4 linked regions of the Homo sapiens genome follow. The protein of the gene in region 2 purifies or fractionates together with the protein of the main gene of each other region. This does not show direct contact. Each region holds a gene or a part of one and is shown on either strand. Other genes may lie near its edges.

Region 1 (7,025 bases), on a different chromosome or scaffold from region 2:
GCTCCTCAGCAGGTGGGGGCAGTGGGGGGCTGCTCCGGGCCGTGGGAGTCCAGGTCTCTGGCAGGGGTGGAGGGGCTGGTGGTGTGGGCTGCCCCTCAAGCTCAGACTCTGGGGCAGTTGGCTCTCGGACTGGGCCAGGCTCCAGAGGCTGCCGGGGTGCAGGGCCAGGCCGCCCAGAGGCACCTGCCTCAAAGGACCCCACGGGAATGCTGGCGATGGCTGCCTTCACTTTCTGGGGGGCCTTCGGGCTGGGCCGCTGGGCCTTGGGGGCCACTAAGCTGTAGGTCATGGAACCTGCTAGTGGGGAGAAAATTGTTTGCTGAGCCAGGCCTGACTGGAGCCCATCCCCTGGGTCCCCCAACTCACTCTGCTCTGGGTTGATCTGACACCTACCTGTGGCGCTGGGGAAAGGGCTAGTCGGGGCTGGGGTGGCAGTGGCAGGGGCTGGCGGGCCCTTGGGCAGAATGGTGGCTGCAGGTGGGGTTGTGCTGGTGGCCACAGTGTAGACCAGGCTTGGGGGGGCCTGGGATGGCTGGGCCAGGGGTGCTGAGGAGGTGGGTGCAGGGCTGCCAGAGTAAAATGCTGTTATGACAGGACCTCCGGGGGCTGCACAGGCAGGCGGCAGCTGGGGACTGGGCACAGGTGACACGCCCACCTGACCGGGAGCCAGCAGTGGGGCTTGGCCTGCTGAAAGACAGAGAAGAAGAAGCAGGAGACCAAGTTAGGGCCCGGACTGCCTCAGCCCCACCCTGGGTCCCCAGCACTGCCTGCCAGGCCGCCCCTCACCTGAGAGCAGGGGCTGCACGAAGGCGGGGCCGCTGGGCCCCAGCGAGGTGAAGCCTAGAGCTACAGAGCTCGTGGGCCCGTACGAGGTGACTGTTCCAGCCTGGCTGGACGCAGGGCTGGTACCCAGGGGCAGCGCGTGCCCGCCCGCTGACTGCACATAGGTGATTCTGCCGCAGGAGAGGAAATGGGGAGGAGTGAGGTAAGCCGGCCCCGCCCCACCCCTTCCCTGGCCTCTGAGTATGGGCTCAGCTGCAATTACCTGGTGGAGGAGGGCAACAGGACCTTCTGAGGCTGAGAGGTGGGTCCAGGGAGTGTGGCTGGGCTCAGGGGCGGCACCAGGCCGCTGGGTGTGCTCACAGGCACCGGGGTCAGCTGGATGATCTGTGGAGAAGGGCACCCATAGGCCAGGGTGAGCTGTGGCCCCAGACTGGGGCAGGGGAAGACCAAGACCTCAAGTGGGACTCTAAGCAAAAGCAAGGAACACAGAACTTGGGGTGAGAACAGGATGGGCAAGATGACAGTGAGAGGTGGGGACACAGAGAAGGAGGAGGGTACAGACACTGAGGACTTGAGAGAGTCAGGATGCACAGAGACATCACGGAAGATGGCAAGACAGAGAACCAGATACATGGAGAAGGAGAAAAGACTGAAAAAAAAGACAAAGAAATGATGGGGTACAGGGGCCAACATCCAGCAGGTAGAGAGAAAGGCAGGCCCTCACCTTGCTGGGGGGCTGGGCACCATTCTGCACAGGTACTGAGAAGGGCGGGCTCACCAGTGGCAGTGGCTGGCCGGCCCCTCCACCCCGCACTGACATGCTAGGGGCGGCCAGAGGCACTAGGACCTTCCCAGGCAGCAGCTGGGCTGAGCCACCCGGGGGCGGGGCCTGCACGGGAGAAACTGACTGGGCTGGAAGTTAAGAGGCAAGAAAGGAAAAGGTTACAAGGGAGCCAAACAGGACTATGGCCCCTCCCCTAGTGCTGCCCGGCCCAGGTCTCACCTTTGGGGGGTGGGGCGGAGGGTACAGACTGCAGGATGGGGATGCCAGGAGTGGGTGCAGTGGCAGCCAGGACTTTGCCGTTGGTGGAAGTGCCCGGTGGGAGGGTGAAACGGATGCTGGTGGTGGGTGCAGGGCCGCTGGGAGCCGCTGCCTTGGTCCCAGGGGCTGGTGCTGGGGCAGGTGCCACCTGAAGCTGCTGGGGCAGCGTGGGCAGGATGTACTGTACCTGGGTGATTCCCCCAGCCTTGCCCAGGGCACCTGGTTGCAGGATGCCCAGGGGTACTGGCCCATTGGGGCCACTCCCAGCACCTGCTCCTGAGCCCGCAGTGGTCCCACCACCAGGGGCCCCCTGGGCAATGAACTGGACAGCAGGGGGCGCAGGGGCCCCATACCCCGGGGTGCCCACCAGTAGGTTAGTGACAGTGGCAGGCGCCTTCCCCACAGTGCCCAGCAGGGGTCCAGCCACCAAGTGTGGGGCTGGTGAGGTGGCTGCTGCCGACTTCTTGTCCGAATACACTAAGCTGACACCCAGCGGGGAGCCCCCAGGCACCCGAGACCCAGTGCCCATTTCAGTCCTGGCACCTGCTGTGTCATTTGGAGACGCCTCAGCCCGGCCAGAGGTGGGGAAGGGCTTAGAGGCGATGGGCACAGGAGTGCTGCTGACAGGCCGCACCACATTGGTGACCATGGTGGCGGCAGGACGGGACAGGGGAGCTGCTGGGGCCCCATAGGCCAGTGATGGGGCGGGGGCGGAGGGCACTCTGGCTCCGCCGCCCTCTTGCTCCTCCTTGTTTGGGGGCAGCACCAGTGTCTGCAGGATGTTTCCTCCTCCGCTGGGAGGGGCCGCGATGACTGAGGGGCCTGGTGGCTCCAGGCCACCCACACTTTCGGGTCTCTTGCGCCGGAAGGTGGCAGGATCCATTGGGAGGAACCGGGTTGCCTTGGAAGGTGTCGCTGGACCCCCAGCCCCAGGGGGTGGGGGCCGTAGGGGGCCCGCTGTGCTGCCCTGACCAGACTCCTGGGCCTTGAAGGTTCCTGAGCCCAGTGAGAAGGAGGTGGCTGCCGAGGCTGAGGAGGAAGCAGGCGAGGACGCAGAGGAGGATGGGGCGGAACCATAGCCTTTGCCAAAGGCTACAGGAGGATCCGGGGGCCCTGGGGGCTCAGGGTCCAGTGGGGGGCGGCAGTGGGTAAAGGAGGAACGGATCACAGGTGAAAACACCTTCCGACCAAAGCCCTGCATGAAAGGAAGGGAGACACCCCAGGTCAGGACACTCCGACACCTCGATAGCAGCCCCCTAGCCATGCCCATCCAGCCTGTCAGCCAGGCCAGCCTAGGGCTGCACCCCTGCCAGCTGAAGGCCTCAATTCATCCTGACTATGACCCAACTCCCCACGGGGCAAGCAGCTTGCCCTCTCTGGACCTTAATCTCCCCCTCTCTCAAGCCCGGGAGAAACAGACATTCCCATGGCTTAGGAGGGAGTGTGATGGGACAGCACCGTGACCCAAGCCCTCACCTTGTTGCCCTCTGGGTCCTCCCCAGAGCTGTCCCCACTCTCGCTGTCGGTCACCCGCTCCTTGCACTTGAGATCAATGTCAGTGGTGCCGAAGCCATCGTCAGCTGAGGGAGTGGAGGGAACAGTATGGGGAGGGGGCTAGATGCAGGGGGACCCAGGAGAAACAGTCTGGAGCCTGGATCTCAGCTCTGCTCCAAACCGGCAGGGAGTGCTGTCCAGGAAGGCTACTCCTCAGCCCAGGGCTGTGCCCACATGCCCAGTGCCCACTGCCCAGTGCAGGAGCCTATGAGCCTGCAGGACAGAGCCCCTAACACTGCACCTGAAGATCTGGTCATGCCCCCTGTCCTCCAGATTTCCTGCAGGGCTGGGGGCTTCCTGAGGGCAGGGCTGGATTTACTCGGCAGGGCCTGAACTGGCCACATGCAACCATAAACCAAGTGGAAAAGAAAACAAAGGGGCCTAGGGGCCTGGATCCAAGTTCTGCCCACCCTCTGAGCCTTGGCCTGCTGGGTCCTGGGCAAGATTCTGGGCCCTGCAATGCTCACCAATGACATCATCATCCCCTTCCTCCTCACAGATGACCATGCGCTCCTCATCACTCGTCATGTCCTCACTGGCCGCACGCTGAGAACGAGAAGCTCGGGTGGGCAGCAGCGGGGGCCGCCCAGTGGCCGCCAAGGCACCTCCCTCACCAGGGGCTGCAAAGGGTCCTGGAGCTCCATACTGGGTAGAAGGCTTTGGGCCAGAGTACGATGCAGGGCCAGACACCATCTGCAGGATAGGTGGCAGAGAGGGTTCAGCGGGGCTGCTGCCCTGGACAGGTTCCCTGCCCACCCCCACTAGGGGGCCTGCACCCTAGACCTGCGTCAGTTCCTGTAGCGCCTGACTGTCTACTTCTCCGCCGTCCAGGCTGTGTACCCCGCTGTGGGAGAAAGCTCGGGGCCGGGCTGAGCCAGGTCCCCCAACTGTGTGTAGCCGTTCTGCCCCACAGGAGCTGCTCCCCGGAGCCTTGGTGTCTGAGCTCAGGAGTGTCTGGGCTGCAACGGACAGGAGCTCAGAGGACACTGTAAAGTAGAGAGTGGCGCTATGACAGTCAGTAAGCCTGTCACCAGCACCTAGACTGGCCCAACAACCCATAGATATTTCTAGGTACTAGGCAGAAGCAGGCTGGAATTTCTGGGCCACTTGGTGAAAAAAAAAAACCACCACCCACCACCAGTCCAGCATCTCATTCCTGCTGATTCCTGCCCTCTGGGGTTGCAGCAGGCCCATTCCCTGGGGGGCAGCCCTCCTGAAAGTAAGGAGGCCTGGAGAGAGGTTCATGTGGTGCTGGCTAGCCAACCGCTGGCCTGAGCCTCGGTTCCCTCATCTCAAAGAGGAAGTAACTAGTGTCCCCACTCTCATAGAAGTGCATATCCATAGCAACTATCCATCTAACCTCACAGAACTGCCATACCCATAGGCTCACTCCAAAAATGTGCCCCAGAACACCGCCAGGCACACCAGACAACCTCAATAAGTGGAAGCAGCCCATCAGGGGTGTTTGCGAGCTGCAGTGGCCCCAACTATGGTGCTGGGGGCCCGCCGAACTGGGGTTTACATTCTGGCTCTGTCATTTGCTTGTTTATGACTTTAAGCAAGTGATTTTGCCTCTCTGAACCTCAGTTTCTTCTTCTAGAAATAGAATGGGGTTTTGCAGACTACAGCTTATATTCCCTGTAGTGCCAGGCACATAGTAAACACTCGTTAAACAACAGTTGATAACGAGATTGCTGTTTGGGAATCTTAGTATCTGTGTGGATCTCCCTGGCTCCGTCACATGAATCAACTGCCGGTTCCTTTACGGATAAGGGTCGCCAAATTAAAGCGATAGAGCAGAGAGGAGCTGCTGGGGCAGGGGAGGAGCAAGCAAGGGGGTAGCTGGTGGCTCTCGGGGAGGGAGGTGGCAGGGTGGGAGAGCCAAGGGGCTGACTAACCCCCAGGGGCAGCAGCAGTGCCCGTCTCCGACATGCTCCGCTCCCGCGTCTCCTTGTGCCCTCCTGCCAGCCCCAGGCTCGTGGGCTTGGCCTCTGAGCTGGACTTCTTTCGGTCCTTGTTGCACCACTTCCAATCTGGGTGGGCCTTGAAGTGGGCCTCCTTCACCTGGCAGGAGAGGGCAGGGCAACCCTTCACTCACCCACCCCACCAGAAGAAGCTGGGAGGAGCCAAGAGGCAACAGCGTTACCTGGAAGGCCAGGTCGTGGTACTTCTGCTTCTCCTTGGGCCCCAGGGCATACCACCACTCGCCCAGGATCTTGCTGACGGTCCGGTTGTCCTGGTTGGGATGACGCTGGTGGACCAGGGCCCGGTGCCGCTTGCTGAAGATCATGAAGGCATTCATGGGCCGCCGGATGTGGTCCTTCTCCCGCTGCATTAAACACAGCCCAGAGCGGGACAGTTAGGACCTGGCAGACAGGTGTGGGTGGCCACGGGGTGAGCACAGGACAGGCAGGGATAAAGTACCTTGTTGGGGCTGCGTCCATCCTTCTCAGAAGATGAGTCCCGTTCCTTGGGTAGGGCACTGAGGGACTGGGTCCGACGTTTTCCGGGCGGTAGAGGCAACTGGATCTCAGGAGACATGATGGAGAGGAAGCTGCGGCGGGGCAGCAGGGACAGTGAGGGCCATGTCTCTGGCCATCCCACCCCCAAGTCCCAGGCCTCAGGGAACTCACGCATCATCATGGTCACTCTCTGTCTCACTGTCCAGCCGGGGCTCTCCTGGGGGGCCGGAGGCCTCCTCCTCCGTGGTGGGAGGCGGACCCTTACCAGATTCCACCACCCCCAAAGGGTGTGGGGGTCCGGGTCCTGGGCTCTCAGGGCATGTGGCTCCAGGGGGCCGCTCAGGGTCAGCACTCCCTGTCCCACCTGGTGGCCGTTCATGAGCAACAGCTGCCGACTCAGCAGGTTCTGGGGACACAGAGGTAGATCAGAGGGCTCCTAGGCCACCTGGACCCCACACCCTTGCCTCCCCCCAGTCCCCACCAGCCCTCACCTTTGCTCTGGTTGGAGGCCACTGGGTGGCTGGCAGGTTGCTGGGCCTCGCTCGGCTGCACGGAGGGGTCAGGCTGGCTGGGTGCCAGGAAGGGGACTAAGGAGTGCCAAGGGAACACAGCCACAGAGCGAGGTTCCACATTCGTCCACACTGTGGAAAGGAGCCAGGTGAGCTGTGCAGCAGGAGAGCCTGGCCCCAACCCCAACTCAAGCTCTTCCCCACCCTAGATGAGGTAGCCCCACCCCTTTTGTCTACCCCCCACCCCCAACACCAGAGCCTCTTGGACTCGTCCATGCAACGTCACTCAGGAAAAACTCCTCCCTGAAAGGTTTCTAGATTTATAAAAAAGAAAACAGAAGCAGGGAAGGGAAATAGTACTCACGCCCCACTCCTCCCCCCACCAATCTCCACCAGCCCTGCCACCAGGGACCAGGCCAGAGGAACGATTTGCTCCTGCCACAAACCAGGTCATGCTTGGCTGCCATCCCACACTCCCAAGGCCCCAGACCTCTACGGGCTGGGACCCCCACCCCCGTCATGCCACATTCCCAGCAGCCCAGTCGCCGCCCAACACAGCGTCTCACCTTGGCCTCATGCTCTCTTTCCCTTTCCTGAGGCATACGGCCCCACGTCCCCTCCCCTCCAACTCTCCGTTCACTATGCACAGGCTGTGGGGTCTCTTACAACTGTGGT
Region 2 (7,066 bases):
GCACATTTTGCCCAGTTGAAAGGTCTCCTGGCAGGTTGGTTAGCAACAGGCTTGCCAGTCTGGGTTCTGTTAGCAAAGAATAAACACATTTCATTAGACAATGACTAGTGGACTGACTTCCTCACTATGAAGTTGTTTTTTTTTTTCTATTTTATTTTCTTCAGCCATTCCCCCTCCCCCACCACTTGTTATTCAACTTTTTACTTGTAATTCTTGCCTCGATACGATTTCCAATTTCTTGACGGCAGACATTTCCACGTCTTTGTGGCTGTGATTAACGCAGTCTAATTGCCAAGAACAGGTACCGAGTAAAAGTTTATTTGAAGGAAAGAAAAGCGACACAGCAGTCTTACATCGTCCCTCGGTAGTTTAAAGTTGTGGCTAGATACGTATCAATTAAGGAATCAAGCTGAGGCATCTGCAAGTACCAATTTTACTGTAATGCTCTAAAATTTGGTCACTTGGGGAAGTCTTTACTTGTAACAGTGTAAGTACACAAGGGACAGGAGGGTTTTGCGAGAAAGGCGGGCGCTCTGCCCTGTTCTGCCCGTGACATGATGACGTAAGAACGACTCCCAGAAACTGCCTGAGTCGCCTGCGTCCCCAGCTCCCCGATGTGCACCTGGGCGCGGGACGCCGCAGGACGGAGCGAGAGCGCTCCTCGGTCCCGCTCCCCTGCGCACGGGCCGGCGAGGACCCGGGCGTCTTCACCCCCACAGGAAGGAGCAGAGAGAGCCACCCGAAGTCGGCCTCGAGTCATCCGTGTCCCCGGGTGCCCTGCCTCTCCAGGATACCTGCGTAACTCGCAGCAGCCAAGCCCCACTACGTTCAAAAGTGTGTTTGTGGTTGTCACAGTGCACACCGAAAAGCTCGCTCCGCACCCGCAGAGTGCGCGGGGCCTCTGAGCCTGGAAACAAGCCCCTCCCAGCGCAGCTGTCGCCGCCGCCTGCGGGCTCCTTTCACTTTCTCACGGCCAAGTCACCCAGAGGGGCGCCGCTGCTGCCACCGCCGCTGCGCCCGAGGACTCCGCCCCGCGCCGCTTCGCTCCGGATCCCCGCCCGCCCGAGCCCCGCCCACCCCAACAGTTGCTGCCTGCGATTGGAACGCGCGGGAGGGCAGCTACGGCTCGCCACCCCCATTGGCTGGGCCCCCTTGTCAGTCCGACGACTGCCCACCACCCCCTCCGCCTTCCCGAAGAGCCGCCTTCCCATTGGAGGAGTCTGAGGGCTGGGGGCGGGCGGGGAGCGCCGGTCCAGCCGCTTTCGGTCAATCGCAGAAGCCCAACGCCCGGAGGGAGGGAGGCAGGGGAAGGAGAGGGGCGGACTGAGGGTGGGGGGAACATCTGGCCGGCGCCGCCGCGTGCGTGCGTGGTGCGTCCTCCCGCCCCCTCCCCTCCCCCTCCCCCGCGCCCGCCCCCCCCCCGCCCCCGCCCCCCCACCCGGCCCGGCGGCTCCGCGCTCGCTCCCTCGCTCGCTCCCTCGCTGTGTCTGGCAGGCTGCGGCCGCCGCTGGGCTGCTGCCATGGGGAGCCGTTGAGAGTGGGGCCCTCTTCGCTCCGCCGCGCTCCTCCGGCTGCCAGCGGGGGTGGGCGGGAGGGAGGGGCGGGGGGGAGCGGGCGACGGAGCCGGGATTGGGGGGTGGGGGGGCCGGGAGGGAGGGGGGCAAGAGCCGGAGGAAGCCCACCAAGTCCGGCGGCGGCGGCGGCGGCCGGGAGGAGGAGGAGGAGGAGGCGGAGGACGCGGCGGCGGCGGGGACGCGGTGACTTAGGGCCGCTCCGTGTGAGTCCCGGCGCCGGCCCCTGGCCCCTGACCTGGCGCCCCCTCCGCGCCCCGGCACCCCGGCGGGCGGGGGGCGCCAGCTGTGCGGCCCCGGCCGGCTGGGCGGCGCGGGCGGAGGGCGGGCCGGGTCGGGGGCGCCCCCGCGAGTGGAGTTAGTTTGTGTGGTTGGAGCTGTTGGGGCGGCGGGGGGCGGCGCAGCTGCGGGAGGCCCGGGCGCGGGGACGGGGCCGCTGCAGCTGCGGGGTCGGGCGGGGTGCGGGTTCCCGGCTCCGCGCCGCGCCCCCGCGGGCCGGTGCAGCTGCGGCGCGGGGCGGGCTCCCGGCCGGTGCAGCTGCGGTGGCGCCTCTCGGGTGCGGAGGGCGGCGGGCTGGGGGAGGGGGCTTGGGAGCAGCCGCAGCTGCAGTGGCGCCCGGGACGGCCGCGGCTCCGGGGACCGGTGCAGCTGCAGTGGCGCCCGGGGGAGGGGGCCGGCGGGGGAGGGGGCCCTCCCGGGCTGGTGCAGTTGCCCGGAGGCCCCGGGGGCTCGCGCGTCGCGGCATCGGGGAAGCGGTAGCAACCACTCTCCTCCCGCTGGCTGCTTCTTACGACTTTTCTTTTGTTGTTGCCGTGACCCGGGTCTGTTTTCTCCTCTGTTGTTTAAGGTGTTTTCCTGCTGCACCGGCTCTGCGCCCTCCACCTCCTTCCCTGTGGTTTTAACCTTCCTCTTTCCCCGTGTGTTTTATGCACGGCGAACTACGTAAAGATTTGCATTGCTTCCCCACTCGGCACCCCCGCCCCCACCTCTCTGAAAAACAAAACCCCAACCTCACAAAACCTCTATGGATCCGCGGTAGCGAGACGTGAAGGGGTTGATTTGTGGAGTGGGAGTTGCTGGCCCATTGCGGTGCCCGGGACTCATTAAACTGTCACTCACCCCCCACCCCACTGGGTAAATGGGGTGATTAATGTCTGATATATTGGAATGGGTCGAGGGCATTTGTGGAGAATAGGTGGTGTGGCTGGGAAGAAATTGATCTCCCGAGGATGTCTCCTGGACTAAGTGTTCATAATTATGTCACTCACCGCGAAGTTGGAGAAAGTTAGGTTTGTGACTTTGGGAAAGCGAGAAGGACAGGACGGAGTCGTCGGGTTTTGTTACTCTTTAACTCTCCGCCACGGCTTTCTAATGGGAACGAAGTGGTTATCACCAGGGCTGGGACGCTGGCGCCTCAGGCCCCAGTTCCTTTTCTACCCCTCGCCCTCCCAAGAGTCTGAGGAGATGTATTTGACATTCAGAGATGTCGCAGCACCCTGCCCGGTACCGGTCAGCCCAGCCCGGGTCGCGTTACAGTTTCATCAGCTATTAGAAAAGACCCACAAACTGGCTGAAAAGTTCTCAAACTTACTAGACCTGGCTTCCCCCCACACAAAGATTTTCTTGTGATCATAAACATTAGAGTGACCCCCCCCCAAAGAAAAAAAAGATTGTTAAGGGACACAGATCAAGGGGAAGGCAAGGTTCTGCTTTTTCTGAGCAGAAAGATCAGATATGCAGGTGCAGCATTCATTTTAAGTGACTGGAGCAGGTTGTATCAGTTTATTAATTGGTCTCGTTGAACTGAAGTACTTTCCAGGATTTCAGAAAGTGCAGTTTCAGCTTGTTGGTACCGAGAATTGAAATTTGCATTGACTGTGGCAGTGTAAGAAATTTTTCTGAGAAGGTAGTTGTAGATAAGTAATTACATAAGAGTGAAATAATAAGGTGAACCAGTCTGAAGTAATAGTTCTGAACAAGTCTGCCAACATTTGAGACATGTATACCATTATCTCAGCAGAAAAAAATAAAAAAGTGCGGTAATAATGTTGAAATGGGACTGGAGATGTCAAATGGGTTGGTTTAAAAATATCCCTAAACTGCTTTAGAAACTAAACGTTGGAGTTGAATAAAAGTGAATCTGGATTTCCTGAATAGCACCGTGGCTTGAGTGTGCTGTCAGTATGTAAGCCAGTCCACCAACTTAAGACAGAAGTGTTGCTATTCCATAAATACAGTAGAACTCCATATGCTGAGTTTTTCAATTTCTTCTGTTAGAAAGTTTGGAAAAAAAGGAAGACTTTGAAGTATTTTGTTTATACTAACAGAAGAGAAAAGTTCTCCTAAGAAAAAGCTGGTGGCAGGAGTGTAGAGGAGTAGCATATGGCATTAAAAGGAGCACAGCTGGAGGTAGCATTTCCATCTGAACATGATGTCAGAGCAGCTGACAGCCTGCCATCCCTCAGCCTTTTATTCTAACACACAGACAGGGAGTTAGTGTGTGCGGATCTGTGGTGGAGAAGGTATCTCATTCCTCTCTAACATCATCTCCACTTTGCATCTGTCTCTCTTAGTCTGCTTTTTTTCCACCGATGTAACAGACCTGGAGCCAGCAGGACTCAGAGGAAAGGACTTAATCAGGTTTATGTGTCCTAAAGGTAGGAGTAGCAAGAGATTAGATTGAGCATATTTCTGTTTTGGTGTTTTGTTTATTTAATTTTAAAAATCACATTACTTTTCTAACCCAGTTTAGGAATAATATATGAAATTGAGTATTAAATGAACATCTTACTGGAGTTGAAAGTCTTGAGCTTGTTTAGTTTTAATTTTTTATCCCTTTTACTTGAGCGAGTAAATAACTTTAATACACAAATATTTCAAGTTTTGAAATGTTAAGAAAGGCTTTAAAATGCTGCTTTTGGAAATCACGTTGGATTAAAATGCTTTTTTGTTGTTCACTGCTATTTAGATTTGATTGGGGTGGTGGTGGTGGGGAAATAGTAAACTGGAATCCAGCATTCAAACTTATATGAGAAGATTATTCTAGTTAAGCAGCTAGATTGTTGTATAATTAATTCCTCTGTGAAACTTTATTCTTCAAAACATTGAGCAGCACTACTGAAACATACAGCTGTAGTGCTGTTGAAACTGCAGGTTTTTAAGAAGAAGAAAAAAAAACCAAACTTTTGTCCCCAGGAGAATAGTTTGACTGGTTTCCTCATTTCTCTTTCAAATATATATTTAAGAGATCTTTTATTTCAGCATAACAATAATTATTTGCAGGAGTTTTTGTGTTAGCGACTAATTTAGAACTTGTAGATTTGAGCTGCCTGAATTGGCCAGACAGCTGTAATCGCACTCCTCTATTCTTAATCTCTTTATCTGGGCAGCAGCTGCCATATGGCCACAGTCAGCTGGATCAGATGTTTATAAGCTTCCTTCTTCGTCCCTCTCTGTCCTCTCAGCCTCCTAATTTGATCACGGCTACCTTGTGAGCTGCCCTCCAATCTTTATTTTTAGCCTTCTCAAGGATTAGGATTGATGTTAGCTGTGGGGCACTTAAAGTGATTGTATTGTAAATCTTAGTTTATTCTAGCAGTGGCATCTTGCAGAATGTGTCTGGGGTTAGGATAAAGTTTTAGTCTGTCTTGGGCAAAGTGTAGAAGAACAAGAAGAAAGGAAGTAATTTCTGAATATTAAATTAAGTGTATCTATTCCCAAAATGCACTTGCTGAGATGGGTGGTGTGGAGGCTTGCTTCTGGTCACAGGAAAGGGGAAGTCGGGTCTTCTTTATTTTTCAGGAGTTTACCCACTGCAGTTGAATTCTGACCCTTTGTACATCTTTGCCTTTCTCCTCCCTCCATTTCACTTTCCCTCATCACAAAACAAGGGCAATGATGAATATTTGCAAGAATAGAAGCTAGTGGGAAAACAGAAATATATCAAATTATATTGAAACAAAGTATTTTCTGTTGGCTGAGGTAAGGCAGAACCAGGAAAAAAAAAAAGGTTCTCTTTTTCTAAAAAGGCTTAAAAAAAAACGTTGAACCTGTAAAGCTTTTGAGTTTTATTTAAGCGCTGTATGCCTTTATTTTTAAAAGTTTGAATTAATTTCAATATGAAACTCATTTTGCCTTGCAACGGATCAAAGTTTAGATGAGAATTTTCGGAGTTCAGTAAAGCCCCTCTGGTTCCTAATATTCTGAAAGTACAGTTTCTACAAAGAAATGTAACTACTTTTTTCTCAGTTCGTTTTGAAAAATCTTTGGATTTGTTCATAGTAAAGATGATCTTTTCCATCTGTTGGTGCAGCTCCTTCTGATCTCGTACATGTGTGCTATACCTGCAAATCTGAAGGCATTAACATCTGTTTTTATACACAGGGCTTTTGTTGTAACACCCTGACTTTAAAAGTAAGTTGTTTGCTAATTTCTGGACTAATTATGCAATTTCATTTTTTTTTCTTGATTCAGCCAAATGTGTGTGTGTGTGTTTAAACTGTGCTTTCTAAGCACAGTCAGGTAGCAAAAGTAATAAAAAGGATGGTTGAACAAGTTTTCTTGTATGTTCCAGGATATGTTTGGGACTTTTCTTTGTTTATTATATGAGTTGTTCCCTTTGAAATTAAAGCTATTTTGTAGGTTTTGTGGGACATAATTTGATAAGTAGAGTTAATTAAATTTCTTCTGGAAGAGATCTAAATTCTTATTCTTAGTGAGAGACTGTAGTTAAAGGAAGGCTTTTAGAACTTGGGTTCAAGGAAGATGGAGATGCGTCGGAAGCTCTTTGGCGGGGGTGAGGAAGTTCAGAAAGTGTGCATTTTCCTTCTGGCATTTAGGTCTTGTCCGTGTGATTTGGTGGTGCTTGGGTCATAAGCCTGATTAAAATTCAGGGACATGTACCACGGCGGCCAAAGCGGAATTAATTTTTTTATATGGGGACTGGAGCGCTGAAAAGTTGTTCCTGACCAGGCTCTAATGAGAAATTCCTCTCTCCCCAGGTTATGAAGACAGTATGGAGTTTCCAGACCATAGTAGACATTTGCTACAGTGTCTGAGCGAGCAGAGACACCAGGGTTTTCTTTGTGACTGCACTGTTCTGGTGGGAGATGCCCAGTTCCGAGCGCACCGAGCTGTACTGGCTTCATGCAGCATGTATTTCCACCTCTTTTACAAGGACCAGCTGGACAAAAGAGACATTGTTCATCTGAACAGCGACATTGTTACAGCCCCCGCTTTCGCTCTCCTGCTTGAATTCATGTATGAAGGGAAACTCCAGTTCAAAGACTTGCCCATTGAAGACGTGCTAGCAGCTGCCAGTTATCTCCACATGTATGACATTGTCAAAGTCTGCAAAAAGAAGCTGAAAGAGAAAGCCACCACGGAGGCAGACAGCACCAAAAAGGAAGAAGATGCTTCAAGTTGTTCGGACAAAGTCGAGAGTCTCTCCGATGGCAGCAGCCACATAGCAGGCGATTTGCCCAGTGATGAAGATG
Region 3 (6,643 bases), on a different chromosome or scaffold from region 2:
CACTCTCTATGATACAATAATGATGGACACAGGTCATTATACATTTGTCCAAACTCACAGAATGTGCACCACCAACAATGGACCCTAATGTAAACTATGGACCGTGGGTGATAATGATGTGTCCAAGCAGGTTCATCAGGTATAACAAATGCACCACTCTGGTGGGGGGTGTTGACAGCAGGGAAGGCTGCGCATGTGTAGGGCATGAGGCATAAGGGAAAACTGTGTTTTCTTCACAGTTTTGCTGTGAACCTAAAACTGCTCTACAAAAATAGTCTTCAAAAAAGTCACCTCACCAATAAAGAGCAGACCAAGACAATAATATGAATGATAATTAGGTTGTTTATAAGCTATTTGTGGTCTAGGGTGGGCTTTCCTATGAGACTTTATCCGAGTAACTGCTTGATAAGAGCATAATATATCCAATTTATTTATGTACATCTAAGAGACATGAGGTTGACATTTTATAATTTTGCTGCTGTTTTGGGATTAAAAAAAACCCCAACACATTTGTTCTGTTATCTGCAAATAAGCACTTTATTACCAAATAGTTCAGCATCAGAACAAGAATTCTAATTCCAAAAGGGTTTCCTTTACATTACATGACATTGTGAGATACACATTAGAAGAATCTGAGACTATGTTCCATTTCAGTTTCTCTTTTGCAATTAGGTAATTTGTTTTGATCTAAAAAGTACAAATTTATCTCATTCTTGTTAATGCTGTCCATGAAATGTAAGTATCAGTTCCTTCTCAGCTAGTGCTTTATAGTTATACTGGTGCCAGGTTAAGAGACCTATTTTATAGTGAGTGACATGAAAGTCAACTACAAGAAAAGCACATTGTCATTTTCATTTACAGAGGCAAGTCCCTCTTAACACAAAGAAAAGCAAAGGACCTTATGTGATTATGTAAGGCAGATCAGCCCAGGAATTTCATTCAAAGATAATACTTCATACTCCATAATCCCATGTGAGAAATTAATGAATGACTCCAAGTAAAAAGAAAATTAAAATTAGCCCTTGGGCCTTGACAATTTAATTGCCAGGGCCTTTTGTCAATTCTAAACAATGTTCTAAATTAGCCACAATTTCTCAGAATGATATACCAGAAGAATATGAACCTCAATAATTACAGGCTGTTTTAAGTTTATTTTGTGAAAGTTATTCCTTCTCCCAGTATTCCATGACTAAAGCTGTTCTCAGGACATACTGAAGATTTATAATAAATTGAGTGCCTATTATACACAAGGCACTGTGCTGAGTGCTGAAAATGTGGTAAGGACAGACAGCACTCCTTGTCAAGCTATCTATGTGGTATCAGCCAGCTGAATAATGGAACATTTGGGCCAGAATAGCATATACTGAGACCAGGGTACCAAAGGTGTCCAATTTAAGTGACTCAAAAAGAGGAAATGGTAAATAAGATATTTCAATTTTTTTTCCTTGACCTTAGTCACATCTGATCAGAACATTCAATGCTTTCTACATAAACTCTGGGTTTAGGCAGACAAAGACCACTCACCACCATCCTTCTTCTGACAGTTACAAGTACTCAGCCAAACATAGCTCATCATACATACTATTAATTAAAGAGAAGTGATTCATCTCTGGCTTTTGCAGGGGAAATGGAAAGGCTCAAAAACTTTCCTGCAGATGGGATCAATTTTTAAAGGCTCCAACTCTGCTTGCTTTGCTGATAAAGTTCTTCAGGAGATCATGGTCCATTTCTGCAAAACCTGATGTTTGTGTTACTACAGTCAGATGGTTTATGCAAAACCTGAAGCAGAATTCTTCTAAATCCTAGGAACAACAACAAAGATGGTTTAATAAATTCATATTTACTAATTCAATGCAACATAGCATGAAAATCGCTAAAACAAGTTAGGCAAAGAAAAAGGATTTAATAGGCAAGTGGAGGAAATGATGGCATGGTAATACCTAAAGAATAGTCATAAAAAGTATAACAAGTATGAATCATCTATGCTTGTAAAAATTTAAGTAGCACAGAGTAACATTCAAGTTCCTCCGCACTAACCTAGGTAAAGAATCTAACTTTTTCTTCCCAGAGATAGGCATGTGAGTGTGTGAATTCCTTGGTACCTTTGTCTAGTGACAGTATTTGTAACTGTTGATTTCACTTTCAATAATTGTTAAAAGCCCTATACTCCTCTTTTATATTTATATCAGCGTCTTTAAGTATGTCTGCCTATAAAGAGTTGATGGAAGAAAAAGGTAAGCCATAAAAAGCAGTAATGCCAAGAAATTGCTGCTCTGAAGTCATTAACAGGCCACCGCTTTTTCTCTTTATGAGACGACACAGGATGGGATGGATGGATTTGATCACACTACATATGCCTTCAATAATCTCAACTGGGAAAATGCTTTAAAGAAATCATGACTTCCAAGTCTCTGGTAAGAGAGACCCAACAGATTGGTGTTTTCTGGCTTACTGTAATGCACTCTGGGCCAAAGAATAATGCTGTAATAATTCTCTTGATTAGAACTATAACTTGAAAATCAGAATGAGGCTGACCAGATGCTTTTTGGCCCTGGAGAAGTGAGGGCAGGGTGCTGAGACCTCCAATATGCCTCAAACCCTAGGCTACTTGGCCTAGGACAAGATGCTGCTAGGTGGTGGTCAATTTTTAAAAGTTTCCTCTCCAAGCTACTGTAGGTAATTTATAAAAAATAAAAGCCCCAAATACTTTCTAAGCAATTACATATGAACATTACACACGATAGTCTTTTCTTCTTTAGACATAAATTATAGCAAATGCTGAAGATGGAAAAAATAAAAAAAATAGCAATGCTGATAGCCTTGCCAATGTACATATAAACCTACGGTACATTTTCTTTTAAGAAAAGAAAGAAACTATACTAGGAAAATGTTTATTTCATGCCTGAAGATAACTGGGCAGGCTGTTGGTACCACACCAGCAATATGATGTGTCTCTGTCCCAGGTAAGCCCTCAGTGATAAACAGGGAAAATTCACACACCCACTTGTCATCACAGCATACTATACATAAAAATGTGCTTCAATGATACATGCTGAATATCTCAGAGTCCATTTAAAATTATGTGCTGTTGCTTAAATTTTTAGAAATGACATTTTTGCCTACAGCACACAAAAGTGAAACCAGATAGAGATGCATCATCTCTTTGGCTGAAGTCTACAGAGAGGAATGGAGGAATTCATACCTACACCACACACATTAGAGTGTGTCTGGAGTTAGGTGGCTGGGCAGTTTGATGCCTCACAGATCTGGACAGCATCAGGAAAATTGCTAATTAATGGGAGAATGAAAGGACCCTAAAAAGTTATCACTTGGATCCATGCTCCTTTACTTTATTCTAGAGTGGGATCTTCCCCTAAATACTAAATTAAGGACAGGACTTGGAAAGAGTTCCTGTGATTCTAAGAATTCAATAAATTGGCATAGGGTGGTGGTACTGGTTATAGGGGAATTCTGTCCATAGAAAACAAGGCCCCCATTATTTTTCAGTTAAAGAATTGTAGTCTATTTTGAATGCTACCACTCTGTATGGCTTCATGTTCAAAATGGGGCCCTCTGTTCTGTCCTGCAGTCCTACCACATTCTCCTAGTTTGCTCATTCTCCTACAGGACTCTCATACTTCTCCCCATAAGCCTGACATCTCCCCTCTCATCCTCATCCTCAGCTGACATGACTTCCTATTTCACTGAGAACCAGAATCACTTGAAAAGAACCTCCACAAGCTCTCCCCACCACGTCTCCTTGCCTATTACAGAGAGGCCTGTGGATGCAATCTTCTCTGGATCAAAGGTCCAAGACCCTATAGAAAGCAGAGCCCTTGCTCTGTCACTAGATCCCACTGCTCCACCTACTAAGGGGCCCTGCTCTACCAACTGTCCCCTGCATCACTGGCTTGTTCCCCTTCACTGAGTCATTTGCATCATTAGACAAGCTTCCATTTCCCACATCTTAAAAAAGTAAAGATGTTTTACCTCAAATGCCCCAAAGCTCTTCCTTTTTATCTTTATAATAAAATTACCATGAAAAGCTGCCTCTATTCCCCATCTTCAGTTCCTCTACTTCCACGCTCCGATCAGACTTCCCGCCTCACTGCGCTAAAACTGCTTGCCAAGGCCCCTCCGGCGTTCTCATCGCCAAACCCACTCGTCAGTTCTCAGTCCTCGTGCAGACGTGCCAGCAGCATCTGGTGTGGTTCGGACTTCTTCCTTCCTGTTTCGCTTTCTTTCCCAGCCTGCAGGAAACGGTCTGCTGGTTTCTCTCTTCCGTTACTGCTCACTCCTCTTCAGTCTCCTTTGCTGGTGTCTCCTTATCTCCTTAACCTCTAAGCACAGAGTGCTCAGGACTTAATCTTCAAACCTGTCTCACGTCACTGCCTCATAGCTTTGACTTCAGCACATTTCTCTCTGACTTCCAGGCTTGCTTATCCAATTTGCTTATTAGACATTTCCATTTGGATGTCTAATAGACATCACATACTTCTCATATTCAAAACCAAATTTCTGATATTTCCCCCAAAATGTTGCTCCTATCTTCTATATCTCAATAGATGCCACTTTCATCCTTACAGCTGCTGAGGGACAGAACCTCCTCAGTCGTCTTTTTTTTCCTCACATCTAATCCATCCGCACATCCTGTTGGCTCTACTTTCAAAATGTATTCAAAATCTTAACCACTTTTTACCATCCCCACAGGTGATAACTTGGACCAATCCACCATCATCACTTACTGGATTATACAGCCTCCTAAGTACCCTCCTTCACACACACACACACACACACACACACACACACACTCTTCTCTCTCTCACCCTCTCTCTCTCTCCACACACACACACACACACACACACACTCTCTCTCTCTCTCTCTCTCTCTCTTCTCTTCTCTCTCTCACCCTCTCTCTCTCTCCCTACCTCCCTCCCTCCCTCCTCAACACAGCAGCCAGGAGGCAGGAGGATTACTTCAAATGCCCATCATATCTGCTCCTCTCCAAACCCTCTGATGGCCACTCACCTTGGAACTCTGATTCCTGAAACTTGCCTATGGACTCTGCAGGCCCTGCCTCCTCCCACACACGCCACTGTGCACCTCCACCGCACCATCTCCCTGCCTCATCAGCTACTTCCCTCCCCACTGTGCTCCCTCCACACCGGGCTTGCTTTTCCCAGAACACACCACCCACACCTCCTTCAGGTCTCTGCTTGAGTCACCTGCTCACTGATGTCTTGCCTCCCTGACCATTCTATTTAAAATTTCAACTTTCATCTCAGGATGGCATTCCCTAGGCTGTCTTCCCTGTCTTACTTCTTTCCATATCACTTGTCACCATCTGACATACTATATATCCTATTCATTTATTGATCACCTATCTCCCCTCACCAGAAATTCCCATGAGAGCAGAGATTTTGGATTGTTTTGTTCATTTGCAGTACCCCAGTGCGTAGGGCAGTGCCAGGCATGTAGCAGGCACTCAGTGAATATTTGTTGAATCCATGCATAAATACTCCTGATTTCAAAATACTGAGGACAATGGAGAATTGTAGTTAAACATGCGGTTTTAAAATGTGCCCAATCTTGGACTGTATCCCAGTTTTGCAGTTTACTAGTTTACTCAGATTACTTAATCTTTCCAAGCTTCAGTTTTCTCATTTATAAACTGGATCTAATATAATAATGCCTATGTCATATAAGGTTGTTTTGAGGAGTAAATGAAACATGAACTGTGCTTAGAATAATCCCTGGCTCATATTAATTATGTACTAAGTGACAGTCCAGCATGAGGGATAATAATTTGCTGAAAGAGCCCATTTCTTGCTTATTTGAGCCAGGCAAATCAAATACAGCACTGTTCTTTATTTACGAAAGCTTGTATTTTACATTAAGTACATATACAGTCTATTTTACTTATAGTCTATTATACTAATTTAGGGTACAGCAATTAGCTGGACAGGCTGTAGTACAACAGTGCATCTCTATAGGCAAAACTGAACATCCATGAAAGGGGTATTTAGTAGGTACCTACTCTGTGTCAGACACCGTCCTAGGCGCTGGGGATATGGTTGTGAGCAAAACAAAGTCCCTGCCATGCCTCAAAGAGCTTACTTTCTAGAAAACAGAGAGCTGGAAGGTAGCCAGACAAATAATTCACATAAATAGAGAATATAAAAAAGTATTAAAAATGAAGCCTGATTCAGATGCAAACACCACGTGCCACCATCTTGACATCTGAGATGGCCCTCCATCACCGTGGCTCATCACTGTGATGCTCAAGAATGGACTAGGAAAAGTGCATGGATTTTGTCTGACCATGAAACATTCTGTGTTGTAAGTGCCCAATATGTTATTGCCTTGATATAAAACATTCACTGTGCTGTTAAATGTCATTGTTTTGAGGTAGTACTTTTTTTTTAATGTTAAGTGAAAAAAAATCTAGGTTTCAAGTATTTACAAATATATAATGTGACATAAAACAAAAACTCAGAAGCTGTTATATGAAAGTGCTAATGTTCTCTGGTTGATGAGTCATTACCTTCCTCACTTTTTGTCTTTTACAAATTTTCTTTAATAAGCATAGTATTATTTATGTAAACAGAAAAAAAGTTATAACCTTTCATCTACTAAAATGTCT
Region 4 (7,128 bases), on a different chromosome or scaffold from region 2:
GGCAGGTTATTATTAGAAAAATGTCTAGAAAGTACAAAAATCACTTTTTGCTTCAAGGTAACAGGTATTGATCCATCCCATTGTAGAGCCAGAATTTCCTCTAAATGCTACTTCAGTTCATTTTTCCTAGCTTTCTCCCTATTATGGCAGCCCACTTCACACTGCATGTCATCTGTACCTCTGCTAATACATCACTACTTCTGCTATAGAGTACAGTAAAAGCTTCTACTGTAACCTGCAGCATCTCCAGCAGTCTGAAACATAAGCCCACTGAACAAAGATAGTAATTCACGTTTAATACTTGTTTTCAAAAAACAATGACCACCAGTTTCCACAATGGAAAAGACCAACATCTACCATCTAAGTTTTTCCTGGCAGATCATTCAACCAAGCACTTCACTGAAAGTAAGACTTCTCAGGTATCAAAAGAACAATTTATCTACCTTTACCTACAGGAACTACTGATGCCTATTTCCTATGGTGTCTTGATAAACTGTCTAAAACTGCTTCACCAATTGTTTGCTAAGTATTGTATTTAAAACAAGCATTTAAATAAAATGGCTTCTTTGATTTATTAAATAAAAAAACAACAAGAATCATTTACCTTCTATCTCCACCAATGGTTCTTGGGTAAACTCCTGAAAGAATTTGTAGAAGAACTTACTACAAGCAGCCAAAACAGCCTTGTGAGCCTTAAAATGGTGTCCTAGGTAAAATAAGAAAAAAAAAGAAAATCATACACAAGCACGAAAATCAAATGTATAACTACAAAATAGACTTAAAAATCATATAAAGCAAAATAGGTCTTCCTTCATTACGTAACTACAGAAATTATTGAACTAAATGCAGAATATTCTTGGCAGCTATCTTGGCAAATGTTAATCTCAATTAGATATAAAGCTAAATCTTCACTTCAAACCCCTTTAGTTTTATAAAGCCTAATTTACAACACTAGGTAAGGAGCCTCTTGACACTCTGTTGTTTCCAATTAAGTAGTGAGAAGCATATCCAACTCAGTTGAAACTGCTAAATAAAAGGACAACCCAAAAGGTCACATATCATTTGGAAAGAGAGAAAAAAACCGTAAGCACAAAGCTGGATATGTCTGCTATGAAAAACATTTTAATATGCCTAATATTTGGAAGCTCCATCTATGGTAGACCCATAATTTTAAAAACAGGTTACCTTGAGAAACCTATTTTCGCTAAACAGAAAACATACCCACGCTGGATTTCCTTCCATTATAGAGGCAACTCCTAAGGCTGGTAAAGACCCCATTTTATTTTGGAGATTCTCAAAGGGGGTATGAGTGCTGCAATGGAATCTCTCATTCTCCCTTCAAGACCATTTGGGAAACTAGAAAAAAAATCAACACTTCCCAAATGACTCCTGTAAGGGACTTCTCAAAGCTTACCAACAAGAGGCTATCAACCAAACATTTTGAGACAATCTGTCCCCAACGACATCATCTTGCACTCAACAGGATGTAAGAAGTTAAAATGAGATGAACACCAGACTACGTGGAAGGCATGACTGACCAACCAGCCTTCTGCAGCACGCTGTGTGAGTGGACACTGACAAGTGCAATCTGGTCCCAGTGCACACACTCTGCAGACTTTGGTAGGGAGACCATAGAGGATGGGTTAAAAAAAAAAAAAAAAAAAAAAAGGCGGGTGTCCGAAGGACAGAAAAAAACTGAAGCCAAAAATTCGCTCCTCTGCCCACTGCCCTACCCACCGTCGACAATTAGGGTGATGTCAGTAAACCGGTCCTGCTCTCGCTGTTCATTCAATCGGTCGAGGATCATTTTATGATGTTCAGGGAACTCCTGAAGGCATTCCATCGTCTCTTCAGCCTCCATGGCCGTCGGGCTGCTCTACAAAAGAAGAGCATGATAATGTACACCCATGAGCTCGAGCCGAGGAACAAAACCCCTAAAGCATAAAACAACAACAAAAAAAACCAGCAACGTGAAAAGAAGGGGGGAGGGTGAAGCAAGAGGAGAGAAAGGCGAGGGAAGAAAGGCGAGCCGAGCGGCCCCGGAGCGTTGAGACCGGAGCCGCGGCCGCGGGACTCCGAGCCTGACCTAATTGGAGTCGGGAGACGCGAGCTAGAGCGGGGTGGGCACAGCGCCGGAGGTTCCGAGCGCCAGGGCGCGCAAGTCCAACAAGGGAGGGGACTCGACAGCCGTGGCGGTCCTCTAACGGCCCGCCAAGCCCTTCTGCCCGGCCGGGGCTCCCACCGCCCCGGGACCCGGTCCGGCCCGCGACCCACAACGACTCTCGGGTCGCCTCTCCCTCCCCCGCCCTCCCTCTTCTCCCCCGCCCCGACCGGGCCGGCACTCACTGAGGGAAGGAGGAGCGGCCCAGGCTTGCGCGTCACTTACGTCGACGCACACCGTCACCGCGTCGAGCTCCGGCTGACGCGGACGCCTTCCGGGCGCCGACCAGCAAGGGAACGGGCCACGCCCCTACCCACACCCCTCAGTGGATGGGCGGGGCCGAGCGCGGGGATTTGGCGCTCACGAAGGGCGAGGGCTTGCTCTCTGAGAAGAAACCGGGCAGCGGTGGGCTTGGGCTACTGCAGAGCCTGGCAGGGCCAGAAGCTGGGAACCTAAGTCATTGCCCTTCAACCTCTCACCCTCCCCAGCTTGACTCCAGGGGCGGACACTTCCCGACCCGAGCCCGGAATGAACTCGCCAACCGTCCTCACAGCCCAGCTACTGCGCGGCCCCTCCCGCCCCGTCCTGCCCCGCCCCCTTCCTTCCGAGACCTGGGTTGGCCCGCCTTACCTAGCTCGTGGGTCGCCCTCCTTCCTCTCCGTCCCTCAGAGCCTCTTGTTCCGTGCTTTCCCCTCCCAGGGCATAATGCGCCCCACGCCTTTCCTGACCCCTAACCCGTGGGTCGCCCTCCATTTTCTTCGTGAGAGCCGGGGCTCCCCTTCTGCTCGGGCCCCGCTGGCGCACGTGCGTTCGGTTGGGCACCCGGGCGGCCGCGGCCCCGGCAGCGGCAGCTACGGGCGCGAGCACGTTCGGGCCGCCCGGAATCTTCCTCCGCGAAGCGCGCCCTCCCCGCGCCCTGCCGCAGCACGTGCTTGCTGGGCTCAGGACCTGGAGCTGCTCAGAATTATTTACACCGGATCCCGTTAGTGCAGGCCTTCCCCACTCCTTTAAAGAGTCCAGGCCGGCGCGGTGGCTCATGCCTGTAATCCCAACACTTTGAGAGGCCTGGGCGGGTGGAGCACATGAGGTCAGGAGTTCGAAACCAGCCTGGGCAACATGGCGAAACCCCGTCTCTACTAAAAATACAAAAATTAGCCGGGAATGGTGGTGGGCGCCTGTAATCCCAGCTATTCGGGAGGCTGAGGCAGGAGAATAGCTTGAAGCGGGGAGGTGGAGGTTGTAGTGAGCTGAGGTAGTGCCACTGCATTCCAGCCTGGGCGACAGAGCGAGACAACGTCTCAAAAAAAAAAAAAAGTCCAGTGACCCACAGTCAGCTGCATGTGACTGCTTCCTTAATTCCTCCAAAGAAATATTATATATAAATACATTTTGAGGATAATTCTATAATTGAGATTTACTTATTTTTTTCTCTCAAAGAACTTGAGAATTGGGATTACGGAGGAACTCAAATAGCTATATGGTAATAATGTCATCATAACTTCAACAGATATGTATTGAGAATCCTAGTACTAGACACTGAGAAGTCCAGCTGTGAACAAGGTATATGTGGTTTCTGCCTTTCTGAATCTTAAGTCTAGTAGACTGCATAGATATTTTGAACAGTAATTGCCTAGGTGCTTGCTGATGAGTTTTGCAACACCTGAAGAACGAAGTAACTGGGTGTCAAGGAAAGCCAGTTGACCTGTAAGAAGAGATGTGGGCGGGCGCGGTGGCTCACGCTTGTAATCCCAGCACTTTGGGAGGCCGAGTTGGGGAGGAGGAGTTCAGCCCAGGAGTTTGAGGCCAGCCTGGGCACATAGCGAGACCCCATCTGTATTAAAACAAAAAATGTTTTTAAGTGATGTGAAGTCTAAGTGTTCTTAGCCAAAAGTATAGCACATGCAAAGGCACCAAGATTATAGCATTCAGGAAACTGAAACAATGTTGCTGGATAGACGCACAAGGGTGCCTTATAAAAAGTGTTGAAGATGTCAGATTTTCTTTTTGCAAGGGGAAGCCTTGCCGCATGGTGACATCCTAAGATGTACTTTTTAAAGAGATAATTCTAGCCCCAATATGGAGAACAGATTAAATGGGACAAGCTGCTAGGAATAGAGATCAACTGGGAGACTGTTAGTAATGTAGATGAAACCATGGGGGAAAATGGAATTAGAGAGCTGGTCAGAATCTAGAGATAGGCTGGGCGCAGTGGTTCAGGCCTGTAATCCCATCACTTTGGGAGGCCCAGTCGGGGAGGATCGCTGGAACCCAGGTGTTCAAGACCAGCCTGGGTGACATGGTGAAACATCGTCTCTACAAAATACAAAAAAATTAGTGATGGTGTGCACCTATTGTTTCAGCTACTTGGAAGACTGGGGTGGGAGGATCACTTGAGCTCAGGGAGGTTGAGGCTGCAGTGAGCTAAGATGGTGCCACTTCACTCCAGCCTGGGCAACAGAGTGAGACCCTGTCTCAAAAAAAAAAAAAAAAATCTAGAGATAGAACCAACATTGGCTGTAAAGCATGCCATAGATACTAAATAAATATTGCTGGATATATTGGTGACAAGGGAGAAAGAATAGTCAAAGATGGCTCCTGGATTTCTGGCTTGAGCCAGTAGATTGTTGGCACCATCTACCAAAATAGGAAATACAACTGGCGGAGCTGGATGGGGAGAGAGGATGGAACCAGAGGTGTTATTATAAGGAGATAATGTTAGAGGCCCTTGGATATATGGGCCTACATATAGTTTAGGGAAGAAGACTAACCGTAGAGATAGAGATTTGCAAGTTTACAGCATAAAAGGAATATTGAAGTGTTAAGAATAGATGGGATTGTTTAAAGAGAGTCTGCAGGAGTGATAGGCTAGCTGCTTGTAGATTGAATTGGTGTTTTAAAATATTATCATCAGCTGGTGGCTCATGCCTGTAATCCCAGCACTTTGGGAGGCCGAGGTGGGTGGATCATGAGGTCAGGAGTTTGAGACCAGCCTGACCAACACGGTGAAACCCTGTCTTTACTAAAAATACAAAAATTAGCCGGGCATGGTGGCATGCGCCTGTAATCCCAGCTACTCGGGAGGCTGAGGCAAGAGAATCGCTTGAACTCGGGAGGCGGAGGTTGCAGTGAGCTGGGACCGTGCCACTGCACTCCAGCCTGAGCAACAGAGCGAGAGTCTGTCTCAAAAAAAAAAAAAAAAAAAAATACGCTGGGCGCAGTGGCTCACGCCTGTAATCCCAGCACTTTGGGTGGCTGAGGCGGACAGATCACGAGGTCAGGAGATCGAGACCATCCTTGCTAACACGGTGAAACCCCGTCTCCACTAAAAATACAAAAAAATTAGCCGGGCATGGTGGCGGGCACCTGTGGTTCCAGCTACTGGGAAGGCTGAGGCAGAAGAATGGCGTGAGCCGAGATCGTGCCACTGCACTCCAGCCTGGGTGACAGAGCAAGACTCTGCCTCAAAAAAAAAATAAATATAAAATAACACATAAATTAAATTAAATATTATCATAATTGTTATTATTCACACAGCCTGCCACCATGCCTGGCTAATTTTTTGTATTTGTAGTAGAGATAGAGTTTTGCCATGTTGGCCAGCCTGGTCTCGAACTTCTGACCTCAGGTGATCGCCTGCCTCCGCCTCTCAAAGGGCTGGGATTACAGGCATGAGCCACCGTGCCTGGCCACGGTATTTCTTAAGATGAAGAAATTGGACACAAAAATAGGCTTTTTGGAAATTCCAGTATATAGGACCGCTCTTCTTTTACAGCAATTGAATTTAACCAAATGGAGAACCCTTTTCTACATAGGATTTGAGCTGTCCAGTTCCCTATAATCCCCACCAATTTCTAATGTTTTAGACTCAGCTATCATTCATTTTCCTTATTTGCTTAGTCCCTGAAAGCATTTGAGTTTGGGACTCCTAGTCCCAAATGGGAGAATGGAAGAGAGTGTAGGACTTTTTATCTAAAAAGTATCAATGTTTATGGATTGAGTAGAAAAGGAAGAAGCTGAAAGGACTGAGTATTGCAGCTGAAGAAAGATGGAAAACTGGAAGAGTATGACATCAATAAGGCCGTGAAAGGAGAGTGTTTCAAAAGAGAGGGTGTGGGCCAGGTGCAGTGGCTCATGCCCATAATCCCAACACTTTGGGAGGCCGAGGATCACCTGAGGTCAGGAGTTCGAGACCAGCCTGACCAACATGGAGAAACCCCGTCTCTATTAAAAATACAAAATTAGCCAGGTGTGGTGGCAGGCGCCTGTAATCCCAGTTACTCTGGAGGCTGAAGCAGGAGAATCGCTTGAAACCAGGAGGCGGAGGTTGCAGTGAGCCGAGATGGCGCCATTGCACTCCAGCCTGGACAACAAGAGCAGAATGCCATCTCAAGGAAAAAAAAAAAAAAAAAAAATGGTGTGGTTAGCAGTGCCAAATGCTGCCAAGTGGTCAAGTGGTCAAGCTAAAAAAAGATTGGAAATGGTCTGGTATATTTAGCATCATGAATGTCTTTGGCAGAAGACCTTAGCAAGAAAAGATTTAATGGAGTTCTGAGGGGAAGAGAGGGGAGGTGAGAAGTCTATATTCAGGTAGGTTAAGGAATAGCTAGGAAAATTGGGACAGCAGTTTTAGAACTTTCATTTAAAAATGAGAGAAGAGTTGAAAGGAGTACCTATAGAGTCTAGCCAGTTTTACTATTTTTGTGTGTTTTGATGGGAGAGACTTAGGCTATTTAAATGGTGAGGGGGAAGGATCCAGCAGAGGAAGAAAATAAAAGTACAAGAGGAAAAGGAGCTAATTGTACAAGAGAGGGATTAATGGATTGAAAGTTATCAGGAGTGTAGATTTGCTTTCAAGAAGTTAAGGAAATTCCTATCAAACTGAAGACCTCTATTTTCTTCCTGAAATAGATGGTCAGGTCATCTACTAAAAATTCAAGAATAGGAGAGAAAAAGTATTTATGTGTTGG

Evidence for each region.
Region 1: the proteins of ZBTB18 (region 2) and CIC purify together in Homo sapiens (affinity purification with mass spectrometry; 2 studies listed by BioGRID and IntAct, with this or other methods). This does not show direct contact.
Region 3: the proteins of ZBTB18 (region 2) and RCBTB2 purify together in Homo sapiens (affinity purification with mass spectrometry; 2 studies listed by BioGRID and IntAct, with this or other methods). This does not show direct contact.
Region 4: the proteins of ZBTB18 (region 2) and ZNF131 purify together in Homo sapiens (affinity purification with mass spectrometry; 2 studies listed by BioGRID and IntAct, with this or other methods). This does not show direct contact.

The regions. Positions count from the first base shown.
Region 1 is NC_000019.10:42,286,228-42,293,252, reverse strand, and holds part of CIC (protein capicua homolog), read right to left. Parts: exon of another isoform or gene 6,917-7,025; intron 6,483-6,916; coding exon 6,333-6,482; intron 6,248-6,332; coding exon 6,013-6,247; intron 5,934-6,012; coding exon 5,804-5,933; intron 5,709-5,803; coding exon 5,526-5,708; intron 5,444-5,525; coding exon 5,278-5,443; intron 4,366-5,277; coding exon 4,163-4,365; intron 4,073-4,162; coding exon 3,847-4,072; intron 3,406-3,846; coding exon 3,302-3,405; intron 3,021-3,301; coding exon 1,787-3,020; intron 1,696-1,786; coding exon 1,508-1,695; intron 1,168-1,507; coding exon 1,046-1,167; intron 954-1,045; coding exon 787-953; intron 688-786; coding exon 394-687; intron 298-393; coding exon 1-297. UniProt on the Homo sapiens protein: Transcriptional repressor which plays a role in development of the central nervous system (CNS). In concert with ATXN1 and ATXN1L, involved in brain development.
Region 2 is NC_000001.11:244,047,217-244,054,282, forward strand, and holds the start of ZBTB18 (zinc finger and BTB domain-containing protein 18), read left to right. Parts: upstream 1-4,066; 5' UTR 4,067-4,215; coding exon 4,216-4,228; intron 4,229-5,883; exon of another isoform or gene 5,884-5,984; intron 5,985-6,278; exon of another isoform or gene 6,279-6,571; coding exon 6,572-7,066.
Region 3 is NC_000013.11:48,488,450-48,495,092, forward strand, and holds the end of RCBTB2 (RCC1 and BTB domain-containing protein 2), read right to left. Parts: intron 1,803-6,643; coding exon 1,662-1,802; 3' UTR 514-1,661; downstream 1-513.
Region 4 is NC_000005.10:43,116,787-43,123,914, reverse strand, and holds the start of ZNF131 (zinc finger protein 131), read right to left. Parts: upstream 3,002-7,128; 5' UTR 2,792-3,001; exon of another isoform or gene 1,877-2,791; 5' UTR 1,862-1,876; coding exon 1,738-1,861; intron 707-1,737; coding exon 605-706; intron 1-604. UniProt on the Homo sapiens protein: Plays a role during development and organogenesis as well as in the function of the adult central nervous system. May be involved in transcriptional regulation as a repressor of ESR1/ER-alpha signaling.